Homo sapiens: one gene and its partner. The protein of the gene in region 1 interacts with the protein of each later gene in a pairwise test. Each region holds a gene or a part of one and is shown in the gene's direction. Other genes may lie near its edges.

The links. Proteins that work in one complex are often made in the same cells at the same time.
Region 2: the proteins of MLYCD (region 1) and UBALD1 interact in binary tests that used the Homo sapiens proteins (3 or more experiments, as listed by UniProt).

Annotation. Positions count from the first base shown.
Region 1 is NC_000016.10:83,895,108-83,902,122, forward strand, and holds the start of MLYCD (malonyl-CoA decarboxylase, mitochondrial), read left to right. Parts: upstream 1-4,007; 5' UTR 4,008-4,037; coding exon 4,038-4,565; intron 4,566-7,015. UniProt on the Homo sapiens protein: Catalyzes the conversion of malonyl-CoA to acetyl-CoA.
Region 2 is NC_000016.10:4,611,851-4,618,872, reverse strand, and holds the start of UBALD1 (UBA-like domain-containing protein 1), read left to right. Parts: upstream 1-3,984; 5' UTR 3,985-4,075; coding exon 4,076-4,195; coding exon of another isoform or gene 4,196-4,380; intron 4,381-7,022.

The DNA of each region.
Region 1 (7,015 bases):
CATCCACTGATGAACACGTGGGTTCTTTCTACTTTTTGCTATTTTAAGTTACATATTAGGAAAATGTGTGCACACGTTTTTGTGTGAATGTATGTTCACAATTCTCTTGGGTACCTAGGAGTGGAATTACTGGGCTCTATGGCAATTCTCTTTGACTTTTTGAGGCACTGCCAAACTGATTTCCACAGTGGCTGTATCATTTAGCATTCTCATCAGCGGAGTATGAGGGTTCTAATTTCTGTACATTCTCACCAGTTATTCTGTTGTTATTATTATTGCCATCCTAGTGGATGTGAAGTGGTAACTCGTGGCTTTGATTACATTTCCCTAACGACTAATGACGTTGAGCATCTTTTTATGCACTTACTGGCCATATATATTTACACATACACATACATACATATACACACACACACATATATATATACATACACATATATATATATACACACACATATATATATTTTTTGGAGAGATGTCTATTCTAATCTTCTGTCCATTTTTAATTAGGTTGTTTGTCTTTTTATTGTTTAGTGGTAGGAATTCTTTTTTTTTTTTTTTTTTTAAACAGAGTCTCGCTCTGTTGCCCAGGCTGGAGTGCAGTGGCGCGATCTGGCTCACTGCAAGCTCACCCTCCCGGGTTCACGCAATTCTCCTTCCTCAGCCTCCTGAGTAGCTGGGACTACAGGCGCCGGCCACCACCCCCGGCTAATTTTTTGTATTTTTAGTGGAGACGGGGTTTCACCGTGTTAGCCAGGATGGTCGCGATCTCCTGACTTTGTGATCCGCCTGCCTTGGCCTCCCAAAGTGCTGGGATTACAGGCGTGAGCCACCATGCCCGGCCACAATTCTTTATATAATCCACATAAAGACCCTTATCAGATATATGATTTTCAAATATTTCTCCCACTCTGTGGCTCATCTTTTTACTTTATTGATGGTGTCCTTCAATATATAAAAGTTTCTCATTTTGATGAGGTCCAAGTTATCTATTATTCTTTTGTTGTTTGCACTTGTGACGTCATATTTAAGAAATAATTGCTATTCCAAAGTCCTGAAGATTTACACCTATTTTCCCTTCTAAGGATTTTATAGTCTTAGCTCTTACATTTAGGTCTTGGATCCATTTTGGGTTAATTCTTCTATTGGCTGTGAGGTAGGTAGGGGTCCATGTTTGTTGTTTTGCTTGTAGATGTCTAGTTGTCCCCGTCCCATTTGTTGAAAAGACTCACTTTTACCCACTGAATGGTCTTAGAACCCTTGTCAAAAATGAATTGACCAGGCTGGTCACGGTGGCTCACGCCTGTAATCCCAGCACTTTGGGAGGCCAAGGTGGGCGGATCACGAGGTCAGGAGTTCGAGACCAGCCTCGCCAACTTAGTGAAACCCTGTCTCTACTAAAAATACAAAAATTAGCTGGGTGTGGTGGCACACACCTGTAGTCCCAGCTACTCAGGAGGCTGAGGCAGGAGAATTACTTGAACCTGGGAGGCAGAGGTTGCAGTGAGCCGAGACCATGCCACTGCACTCCAGCCTGAGTGACAGAGTGAGACTCTGTCTCAAAAAAAAAAAAAAAAATCAATTGACCATAGATGGGTTTATTTCTGAATGTTCAATTTTATTCTATTGATTTTTGTGTTTTATCTTTCTGCCAATACCACATTATTTTGATTACTGTGGCTTTGTAGTAAGTTTGTTCTTTTTAAAGATTGTTTTGGCCACTCAGGGCCCCTAGCATTTCTATATAAATATTAGAATATGTTTTTCTATTTCTGCAAAAAAAAAAAGGGCAGTGAAATTTTAATAGGGATTGTATTAGATCTGTAGGTTAATTTTGGGAGTATTGCCATTGTATTAGTCTATTCTCACGCTGCTATAAAGAAATACACGAGACTGGGTAATTCATAAAGAAAAGAGGTTTAATCGGATTATGGTTCCACAAGCTGTACAGAAGACGTAGTGGCTTCTGCTTCTGGAGAGGCCTCAGGAGGCTTCCATTCATGGCGGAAGGCAAAGGGGGAGTGAGGAGCTTCACATAGCCAGAGCAGGAGAGAGGGGGTGGTGATGCACACTTCTAAACAACCGGATCTCCTGAGAACTCACTGTAGGGTACCAAGCGGGGATGGTGCTAACCCATTTATGAGAACTCTGCCCCTATGATCCAATCATTTCTTACCAGGCGCCACCTCCAACACTGAGGATTACAACTAGACATGAGATTTGGTTGGACACAGATCCAAACCATATGAGCTATATTAACAATATTACATCTTCCAATCCATGAACCATGCATGGACCATTCCATTTGTTTAGGTCTTCTTTAATTTCCTTCAATACTGTTCTGTGGTTTTCCATCTACCAGTCTCACACTTCCTTGGTTAAACATGTTTCTTTTATCCCTTCAGATGTTGTTGTAAATAGAATTGTTTCTTTAATTTCATTTTTGGATTGGGGCAGTCTTTTGAAATAAGGACATGAGTGGGAAAAAGCAGAGGATGGCTGTTGACGCCTAGAGAAAAAAGTATAAACACAGAGAAAAAAAAAACAGAAGCCAGAAATTACATAAAAAGGAAGGCACCGGGAAAGATGAGAAAGAACAGGGTTGTGGGAGTACTACACTTAGCAAATGCTTAAGCAAAGTCAAGCTTTCAAGACAAGATTCCTAAAGCAAGGCAGGAGTATCCTAGGACAGACAAAAGCTCACTCGACAAGGCAAAGAGACAAACACCAGAGTTTGGACCCCACCAACTCCCTTAGCCAGCTGGCAATATGGTTTCACCACTTCTTAGAAAAGAGGAATGGAGAGGTGTCCTCAAAAGCCACCACTAGGCTTTCAGAATGTTTTGTGTGTCTGTGTCTTGGCAGAATGAGCCAAACGTACTTTCTTCGTGCCCCATAAGATGAGACACACCCAGCAAAGGCTGTCCTCATACAGAACTACCTCCAGGTGTCTTTTATACTGCAAGACCTGCACCAAAGGGTTCTACCTATAGAAATCCTAGCACCTAGACATAGTCAACCAAGTACATGGCTCCCTCACCCTCCAACCAAAGATGCCATATTTCCATCAGAGTGGAACAAAATCCCACTGTGTTCCTAATGCCTCCTGCAATTTTGCATGTGGGAGACATGGCTGGTATGTGACATTCTCTTCTACAGATTGTAATGGATTGGGGAAGGAGGGGGAACTAGAGTTCAGGCCTATCTTTCTAGAGGACAAAATAAATATGCCTTGATAACTGCAATTATCTGAAAACTATTTCAAAGAAAACTCTTTGTCTCATTCTGGCATTTGCTCAAGGGTATGGCTTTCCATCAGTCTCTCTGTCTCCATGTCTCTTTTACATACATATGTATGTGTATATGCGTGCGTATGTGTACATACATCCATACATATAGACATATTCTCTCTCTCTCCACACACACTCACACACCCCTCCAACCTCTGTGGCTCTGAGCGTCATGTGTGTAAGACACTGACGCGAATGGTGAGTGCCTAGGCAGGGGTCAAACAAAGGCTACCTACCATGCCAGAGGATTGCCACAAACACCTCTTAAGCAAGCATATTCCTTGGCTCCTCCCAGACACACTGAATCTGAATCTCTAGGATTCTGATTTCGGAGCCCAGGAATCCTCCGGTGCAGGAGTTCCCAGGTGACTCTGATGCACCGGGAGGCTGGAGGCGCTCGGATCTAGAGAGGAGGCGGCACTTGTGCAGTGCAGTCGGGAAAGAGAGGAGGGGCTGGGCCGGTGCCTTTAGGCGGTCAGGTGTTAGGACCGGAGTACAAGCCGCCAGCCGCGCGGGAGCAGGCCCCGAGGCAGCCCAGCCGCGGGGCAGTAACCTTTAGCCACACTTGGCCTCCGGCCGCCGCCAGAGCCGCTCCGCCCCCGCCGCCTCGCCCCCACCGCCCCGCCCTCCTATTGGCCGCGTCCCCAGCCGGGCTCGCGGCCTCGGCCAATGGGGCCGGCGCGCGCCGGAAGCCGGAAGCGCGGCAGCGGCGGCGGCGCTCCCCCTCGGCAGCTGTTGTGGGGCACCATGCGAGGCTTCGGGCCAGGCTTGACGGCCAGGCGTCTCCTCCCGCTGCGGTTGCCCCCGCGGCCGCCCGGGCCCCGGCTGGCGAGCGGGCAGGCGGCCGGCGCCCTGGAGCGGGCCATGGACGAGCTGCTGCGCCGCGCGGTGCCGCCGACGCCGGCCTACGAGCTGCGCGAGAAGACACCGGCGCCCGCCGAGGGTCAGTGCGCGGACTTCGTGAGCTTCTACGGTGGGCTGGCCGAGACGGCCCAGCGGGCCGAACTGCTGGGCCGCCTGGCGCGGGGCTTCGGCGTGGACCACGGCCAGGTGGCGGAGCAGAGCGCCGGCGTGCTCCATCTGCGCCAGCAGCAGCGGGAGGCGGCGGTGCTGCTGCAGGCCGAGGACCGGCTGCGCTACGCGCTGGTGCCGCGCTATCGCGGCCTCTTCCACCACATCAGCAAGCTGGACGGCGGCGTGCGCTTCCTGGTGCAGCTGCGGGCCGACCTGCTGGAGGCGCAGGCCCTCAAGCTGGTGGAGGGGCCGGACGTCCGGGTAAGGGGCCGCCGTCGATCCCCCGGCAGCGCGGACTGGCCGCCCTCCTCGAGTAGTCCTCACTTGCCCCCTCCAAGTCCCACACACCCCGCCTTCCCTGCCCGATAGCACGCTCACTTCGCCCGCAGTTACCGCCTGCCAACTGTGTCCCCTTCCCACGCTGTCTGAGTCCTGGCCTCGTCAGAGCACACCCCCGCCTTCCTCCAGTCTGTCCTTGAAGTCCTCACTTGTATAGTGTTTACTAAATACTCAGCACTTGGTGGTCTTTAAGGTAGCTGTCACCTCTCGTACCTGATTAGTGTGTGCTCTACAGTCTTTTGAAATTATTGTAGCTGAGAAGTGTTTCATCTATATGGTATACCTGAACTAGAGCATCAGGCAGCCTTCTGAGACCCTGGATGGTGTTTCAGAAGTTCACTGGGCACCCGCTATGTGTGAGACATTGTCCTGAGAAGTCCTGTGAAATGCACAAAGGTAAATAGGACTCAAGGTCACCACCACCACCCAGGAGTCTCCATGGCTTCTGGCCTTGTCTGTGCTCCATGACTTTTGGGAGGGCATTTAACTCCCTGCGTTCAGTACTTAATGTGATGATTCTGAGTTGACTTGAGGTAATCAGGCATTAGCACAGTTCATTCATGTTAAATGCAGACACATACTTTGAGATTTAAATGATTATGACCCGAAAGAAGGCCTAGAGCAACATATACTCTTCTTTTATACTGTTAGTATTAAATACGGCGAAAAACTAACCTGCCCTTTTTTTATTTTTATTTTTGTTGCCCAGACTGGAGTACAGTGGTGTTATCACGGCTCACTGCAGCCTCGACTTCCCCAGGCTCAAGCAATCTTCCCACCTCAGCCTCCTGAGTAGCTGGGACTACAGGTGCAGGCCACCATGCCCGGCTAATTTTTTTTTTTTTTTTTTTTTTTTGTAGAGAGGGCGTTTCACCATGTGGCCCAGGCTTAACCTGCCCTTTTAATGAACGAAAAATGACGTAAATGTTTCAGGAAGTTTTGGACATTCAGAAGTTTGTTATGTGCAGTTGGTGTTAAAAAAAAATTGAACACTTGAATGATTATGACTTGACCCATTTAAGAACTCTAATACTGGTTTAATAGTTTACATTCCTTCAGTCTTACGTGGGTGATAACACGTATCCCTTTTACAGTAAAGGAGAACATGCTGAGGTTGTGTTACTTGTCCTGAAATTCAGAGCGAAAAGCTCTTGCTGATCACCCACCCTAATCCAGGGTTATTTGCACTACGCTTTATATCACTGTCTTACCGTTAATCAGATGTTTATTAGAAACTTTCTTTTTTGGCTACTTAGATGCATAAAATTGGGCATAATTAAGTATGGGATTAATGTCAAGAGTGACAACAGTGGCCATGATTTGATTCCCCGTGATAGCTGGTTAATTTACAGCGCTAAGTGTTACTGAGGGCCAGGCATCTTTGGCCGTAAGATTCTCAGACAGAAAGCCCACAGTTGCTAATTGCATGACACAGAATCAGTCATGAATTCTTACTGTGTTGAATTATCATGTTCTGGGCTCAAGCCTAGTCTGAATAGCTGAGTTTTTCTGATCCACACTTGGACATAGTACTTGCAGTATATCATCCCCCCATGTAAATGATCAGCTCCTCGAAAACTGGGAAACTTGTCTTTAAATTTCTTGCATAGCAGAATGATGAATGAATCATTGCAATAGATTCCTGGGTGTCCTGGCATAAGACACACTTGACACACTAATCATTCAGCATTTGTGTGGAGGTGAGTCTGCCCCACACTCAGTCATAGATTTTTGAGCCTGAGAGAAAGCCATGAAGGACTTGAAAGGTTTCTGCCCAGCTGAGAGGGTCCTCATATCAGACATTTGGACAGCTTTGTCCCTCATTGATTTCTCACATCCGGTCCAATTCTGAATTCTCTGGTTCTGTGAGATGCTGTGGAATACATCCTTTTGTTCTTCCCCACTCAAGAAAACTCTTGGTTATCGCGTCATTGGGAAGGAACACGTTGCATGGCAACTGAAGACACTCACATCCAGACTTGACTGTTGAGAGAAAGGAGCTGGCCCCTGGGAAATACAGAGGCTGCTGAGTCCTTAGACATTCACAAGTTTCCTTGCTTTTTGACCAAGGCTATTTACAGAAGGGAAAAAAACATTGCATACTGTAATGCTAGGCCAAAAGTCCTGTGGACCAGAGGTGTTTATCAAACAGAATGAATAACGACAGTCTGATCTTTGCCTCTGCATATGGTTTGGACATAATGGCTTCAGGAGCCTTTCTGTGATTGCTTTATTGTGCCCCTTCCATTTCTTTACCTAGAAACCCCAGCCTTATATTCAGTGCATGTAACTGTTAGTAGCTGAACCTATTAATTCCCTTCCCCTTCCCTTGTTCTACGTAGTTGTTTTCTCATATATACACATATATATGT
Region 2 (7,022 bases), about 79 Mb from region 1:
TATCTGTAAAATAGGGCTAGGGCTTCCCAGAGTGGTCCAGATGGAGGCAAACAGGTGAGAGCACTAGAACCGTGCAAATAGCACCAGGCCCTGCACTCTGCATTTTACAGGCATTAATCTTCCACAGCAGTGAGGCCAGAACTCAGCCCCGCCAGTGAGAAAGTGAAGCCCAGAGCTCTGGTAACTCGCTCAACATTAAGCATTAAGTCATTAAGCAGCGGAGTCAAGCCTGACACCCAGGTCTGTCTAGCTCCCGAACCTGCCCACCTTCTACCACACTGTGTTGTCGTCCTAGTGGTAATTATTATAGCGGGAATCATATTCAGAGCTGGTTTTTACTGTGGGCCTACCCTGTGGAGCACTTTGCCCATATTAATTCATGCATATGAGCTTTGCAAAGGTTAAGGAGCAACTCTTAGCAAGAGCAAACATCTCTTGGAACCATCAGGGTTTACAAAATACTGTGGCCCCTAAGTGATCCGCAAACAGCAGGAAAGAATTTTAAACTGTATTTCCCGTGGTCAGATGGCTTCTGCCGAGGCTAAGTGCCTGCCTGGGAAAAGCCAAGACTCAGTGTCCGCCCCTTGCCTATAGGCCAGGCTCCCAGCCCCAGCCCTCAGAGACCAACTCCACTGCACCCTGACTCCCTTCCCTCCCCAGCCCTCTCCGCTATCTCAGTGCCCCAAGCCTTCCCCACCACCCTACCCTCCCACCCCAGGACATTTCAGGTCCAGTCCACTAGTTCCCCTACTGTCCTCCTCCCACCACCCAATGGGAGAGTCCTTGGTCAGGCTTGAGGGGCCCGGGTAGGAGCCGCAGCTTGAGGCAATTCCCTCCATTCCATCCAATTCCGAAGGCAGGGCAGACTCCCCTGGAACCAGACACATCAAGAACGTCGCCTAGTTCAGACCGGAGCTCTCCACCACCATCTGATCCCAGCACAGCCACAGCCACAGTGATCCCAACGTGTCCAAGGGATCAGATCTGTTTACACATTTCAGTATCCCCTAACTCACCCCCAGGGCCAGTGCCGGCCTCCCTAGGGCATTTTTTATTTTTTGGAGACAGGATCTTGCGCTGTTCCCCAGGCACAATCACGGCTCACTGCAGCCTCTGACTTCCCAGGCTCAAGCAATCCTCCTACCTCAATCTGTAGCTGGGACTCCAGAATTTTTTTTTTTTTCTTGAGACAGTCTTGCTCTGTCGTCTAGGCTGGAATGCAATGGCGCGATCTCAGCTCACTGCAGCCTCCGCCTCCTGAGTTCAAGCAATTCTCCTGCCTCAGCTTCCCCAGTAGCTGGCACTACAGGCGTGTGCCACCATGTCCGGCTAATTTTTGTATTTTTAGTAGAGACGGTTTGACCAGGCTGGTCTGGAACTCCTAACCTCAAGGGATCTGCCCGCCTCGGCCTCCCAAAGCGCTAGGATTACAAGCGTGAGCCACGGCGCCCGGCCAATTTTTTTTATTTTTTATTTTTTGTAGAGACGAGGGTCTCACTATGTTGCCCAGACTGGTCGCAAACTCCTGGACTCTAGTGATCCGCGCCCATCTCGGCCTCCTAAAGTGTTGAGATTACTTACAGGTGTGAGCCATGGAACCCAGCTAATTCTCTGTTTTTTTGTTGTTGCTTTGTTTTTTGGTTTTTTTTTTTGAGACAGAGTCTTGCTCTGTGGCCCAGGCTGCAGGGCAGTGGCGCGATCGCGGCTCACTGCAACCTCCGCCTCCTGGGTTCAAGCGATTCTCCTGCCTCAGCTTCTGGAGTAGCTGGGATTACAGGCGACTGCCACCACGCCCGGCTAGTGTTTGTATTTTTAGTAGAGAACGGGTTTCGCCGTTTTGGTCAGGCTGGTCTCGAATTCCTGACCTCAGGTGATCCGCCAGCCTCGGCCTCCCAAAGTGCTGGGATTACAGGCGTGAGCCACTGCGCCCGACCCGAACTCAGCTAATTTTCTTAAAATGTAAATCTCTGTAGAGGCGTGTTCTCAAAGTCCTGGGCCTAGGCAATCCTCCCTCCTCGGACCCCGAGTAGGTGGGATTACAGGCCACCGCGCCAGCCCGGGAGGGCATTTTCCATCTTGCAAGGCTATACTCGTCCTCCGGGTTTCCGAAATTCGCTCCCAACCCCAGCCGTTCTCACAGCCCCCACCCGGCTATTGCTCTTCTGTCGCCCCACGCTAGGTCAGGGCCAGGAAAAGAGGAAAGACTCAACAAATAGTGTCTCAACGAAGGAGGCTGGGGCCAGGGGGCGCAAGGAGCCGGACCAAGGTCACCTAGAGCTGCTATGATCGCGCCTTACCGCCCCCGGGCGCTCGAAGCGGGCTAAAGCCTCACTAGCTGTCAGCAACGTCAACCGGAAGCGCCATGTGCCGGTCTGTAAACACCGCCCGGTCGCCCCGCCCCCGGCTCCGCCCCCGGCCTCCCCGGCCCAGCGCCCGCCCCCGCCGCCTCTTCATTGGGCGACCAGCTTTGTTTACCTTATATGGCCAGGTCCTAACACCCCGAGGCTGTCCATTGGTCGAGGCACGACCTCACTCAGCTGACGTCACCGGGACCAAACGATGCAAATAAACCGAGGCATTCTGGGAAAGGGAGTTTGGGGCCGCTCCGGAACTGGCTCTGCCGGGCCTTGGCGCCCGCCCGCTAAGGGCCGAGATTTCCGGCAAAGAGCACGAGATTTTGCGTGGGAAAGCGGGAGAACTGCTGGGAGGGGGACCCCGAAGCACCAGAGGCTGCTGGCCCCGCCAGCCTGTCCCAGGCGCCGTCCAGAGGGTCATGGGGCTACAGTGGGGCAGGCCCAGAGCCAGGCTAGGAAGGACCCATGCCACGAGTGGGCGATGAGAGATTGAGTGAGGAGAGCTAGGAGGCTAGCTATAGGCGGTGACGTGCGGCGGAGCTTTTAAGTGGCTCATTCATTCATTCACTGAACGAGTATTTGTCGGCGCCTACAGTGTGCCGGGCCTTTCAGCCTAGACCAGCCGATTTGGGCCAAAATTCCTAGAGACCCCTCTCTTAAGGGCGTGCCTACTATTTAACACAGAGCGATGCCAATCACAGAGGGGTTCAGGGTCCCTAGGTCTTAGCAAAGACGCCTGTGGCCCGGCGTTTGCGCCCATGCACAGATCTGTATGCCCCACCTTGGGACCCCAATTCGTGCCAGAGCAGGGGCACGGGTGCCACCGAGAGCAATGAGGGCGACATGGACGTGCCTGGCTCTGGTCACGGTCTGGACAGCTGCGCACAGTAGGCACTTAGCGTTCAGTCACAGTCCCCGGGGCATGGCAAAGACGTCTGTGGCCTGGCGTTTGCGCCCATGCACAGATCTGTGGCCCCGGCCTCTGGGCTCCTAATTCCCGCCAGAGCAGGGGCGTGGGTGCCACCGAGAGCAACGAGGGCGACGTGGACGTGACTGGCTCTGGTCCCAGCTCAGGCGCCTGCACACATTAGGCACTCAGTTTTCAGACACCGTTCCTGGGCCTTGGCAAAAACGCCTATGCACGAACCTGAGGCCCCCGCCTGCGGACCTCCATCCGTGCCAGAGCAGGGGCCGGGTGCCACCCAGAGCAACGAGGGCGACGTGGACTCCCCCAACCCTGGTCACGGCCCGGGCATCCACACACAGTAGGCGCTCACAGTTCAGACACGGTCCCCAGGCCTTGGCCAAGATCCTGTGGTCAGGCATTTGCGCCCATGCACAGACGTGGCCCCCGCCAGCGGACCCCCATCCGTGCCAGAGCAGGGGCACGGGTGCCACCGAGAGCAACGAGGACGACGTGGACGCGCCCGGCTCGGGTTACGGCCCGGACATCCGCACAGCGGGCGCTCGGTGCTCAGACACGCCCCTTCCCGGGCTTCGCGTCCCCTAGGGTGCCGGCCCCGCTCCCCCGGGGCGCCCGGCGCACCGTGGGGACTACATATCCCAGCATGCCGCGGCGCCGGCGGAGCGAGGCGAGGCGCGGTGAGTCAGAGCCGCACAGTAAATATTTGTATTAGCCGGAGCCGGCTCGCTAATGGTGGACGCGTGAGGCGGAGGCGCGGGCGGAGGAGGGAGGCCGGAGCGGGCAGCGCGGCGGCGCCATGTCCGTGAACATGGACGAGCTCAAGCACCAGGTCATGATCAACCAGTTCGTGCTGACGGCGGGCTGCGCGGCCGACCAGGCGAAGCAACTGCTGCAGGCGGCCCACTGGCAGTTCGAGGTGCGCGGCGCCGGAGCCGGGCGAGGGCCGGGGCCACGGGCGGAGTGTGTCCCGCGTGGCCGCCGGGCGGGGGCGGACGGCGTGGACGCGTGCCGGCTGTGCGCCCCCTCCGGGCCGCAGACCCGACCCGCTTTCCCGACGGCGGTGCCCGGCGTCCGGATCCCAAGGGCTCGCGGCGGGCGGAGGTGGGAACCGGGCCACCGGTCGGGGATACGCCGCCCCCGCGGGGCCGCGAGTCCCCCGGGATCGAGACGGGGACCCCCCCCACCCCTTTTGTCCGGGTAACGGCCGAGGGCCGGGCGGCCCCGCGGTGCAGACGGACAGTCGGGCGGGCGGCCGGAAGGAGGACGCCCCAGGCCTCGGCAGAGCTGGGCCGGAGGGCGGAGCCGCTCCGGGCGAGTGGTCCGAGGGTCCGCGTGCCTGGTGGGCGGTCGGCGGCGTGCGCACACGTCCATGTGCATTTGTGTTTACGCACGCACCGCGCCACGGCGTCGGCCGGGCACCGGGGAGGTGGCGGACCTGCGGGCACGTTGGCGCGCGTGTGAACGCGCAGCCCCCTGGTGCGTTTGGTGTGTGATCAACGCGTACACATGTGGCGGGTGTGCAGATGCCGCCCGTGCCCGGCACGGTGTGATGTGTGTACACGGCCTGGAGTGTAGGGGTGGCGTGTCGGAGCCCCACACTACACCACAGGGATGAGCGTGTATCCCCTTCAGAGGTGTGCCTGGGGACTCCGTGTGCGCGACTAGGTGCTCTCCTGGGGCTGGCAGGGGCATCTGTCCCTTTACCGGTGCAATGGGGAGGGTGCACACGGTTCACCAGCTTTCGGGCTAGCTGGGTAGGAGGTGATGCTGCCCCGGTCTGGCACCCACTCCCCCGGGCCTCTCCTAACCCATAGGACAGTAGTGCTCCTGGCTTGTGCTGCCCAGAGGCTACCTGGCTTTCCCTAATTCACCGACCCCAGGATTAACCCCATGGTGGTTGGTATCAGGGGATGAGGCCAGAGCCCTTTGAGCTGTGCCCCTCACAGGGGTAGGGTCATGGCCTCAGCCATCCCGGTACCATCTGTGCCCAGCCGGGGACTGGGAACCTGGTTTCTCCATGAGGAGCCATCCCAGGGCCTGCAGGAGGGACTAGAAGCCAGAGGACTCTGAGGCTCCGCTTCCTGGGGACTGCAGGGGGATCAGAATGTCCCAAGCTTGGGACAGTCTGGGAAGGCAGTGGCCATCCCATCCAGATGAGTACATCCCTCTCTCCTTGCCTACTTCCCTCCTACCAGCCGTCGCGGAGGCCACTGATCCTGTGTGGTGTTCACCCCAGGACGTGGGAGGCTGCTCTGTCCCTCTGGCCTTAGTTTCCACATCTGTATGGTGGGGTTGGGGGGCATGAGTCAGCTTCTGTTGGCCAGCTTACTGCCCCCTGTGCCCCAAGGCAGCCCCACCCGGAGGAAGCTCCCTGCTTCCCTCCTGGTCTCCACAGCCCTCATCAGCCCTGTTTGTGTCAGGGGCTGGATGTGGCAAAACTTGCAAAACCGCATTCATGGCAGTTACACATCTGCACGCAGGGTTCCCTCGCTGCCTGGGGCTGGGCAGGTAGGTGTCCGGTGGGAAGCGGGCCCTGCCTGCAGGACTCAGCCCAGCCCTCAAAACCTGGCACCCAGCTGGCACCCAGGCCACATCCCTCAGCGGCACAGTTAATTGAAAATGCAGCTTTGAGGAGTGCAATGTCTGGGGAAAGACTGTTCCCAGAGGGGCAGGAGCATCTGGGGCCTCTGGTGGCTCCCAGGGTCCCCATGGGAGGAGCCCTGTGCCCTCCACTCCCAAGTCTCAGTTGTGCCATCTGTAAAGTGGGGGCCGCCAGGGAGGCTGGAGGAAGGTGACGGGACTTCAGGCCTTGGAATGGGGCTGAGTGAGGGGTTCACATGGCCACCCCATCCCTCTCCACGCTCCACCCGCTGGCTGCATCCACCAGGCGGTGTTTCTGGGTCACATTTGCTGCAATTCAGGTGCTAATGGGGGCAGGAGGCTGCAGGGGGAGGGGCCGGTGTCTAGTGGGGCAGATGTTTCTCAATGGAGAATGCTCACAGCGGCCTGCAGAGGGGGTCTGGTGTGGCCTGGGGCTCCTGGGGTTGGGATTTACACAGTGAGCCTGGGCTTTGGGGCACAGCTGCTGCTGACAGAGGGTCTTGGGGTCTGGGAAGGTGCTTAAAGCCCGGCCCCCATGCCTGAGCTCCCACACCCCTGTTTAGGGACACCCAGATAGGGTGTCTCCTGCAGGAAATTCCCCACATAATTCATTTATTTAAAAAATATTTTTTGCCGGGCACGGTGGTTCATGCCTGTAATCCCAGCACTTTGGGAGGCCAAGGTGGGCGGATCATGAGGTCAAGAGATCAAGACCATCCTGGCCAACATGGTGAAACCCCATCTCTACTAAAAATACAAAAGTTAGCCAGGTGTGGTGGCACGTGCCTGTAGTCCCAGCTACTCGGGAGGCTGAGGCAGGAGAATCACTTGAACTAGAAGGCAAAGGTTGCAGTGAGCCCAGATAACGCCACTGCACTCCAGCCTGGTGACAGAGCGAGACTCCGTCTCAAAAAAAAAAAAAAAAAAAATCTAAATAGCCTCCCACCCATACCCCCTGATCGAGGGCAGGCCCCAGGAGCCAGGCTGGATTTCTGGGTGTGCTGGGCCTGGGAGGGCCAGGAAGTCAAGCTGGCATTAGGGGAGTGGGCCTGAGGGGTGGCGGTAGGGGCACCTCGGCGGCTTGAAGCTCCAAGTCTGGGCCTGGGACTTGGCAGGGCCCCGAGAACCCCTCAAATACTTGT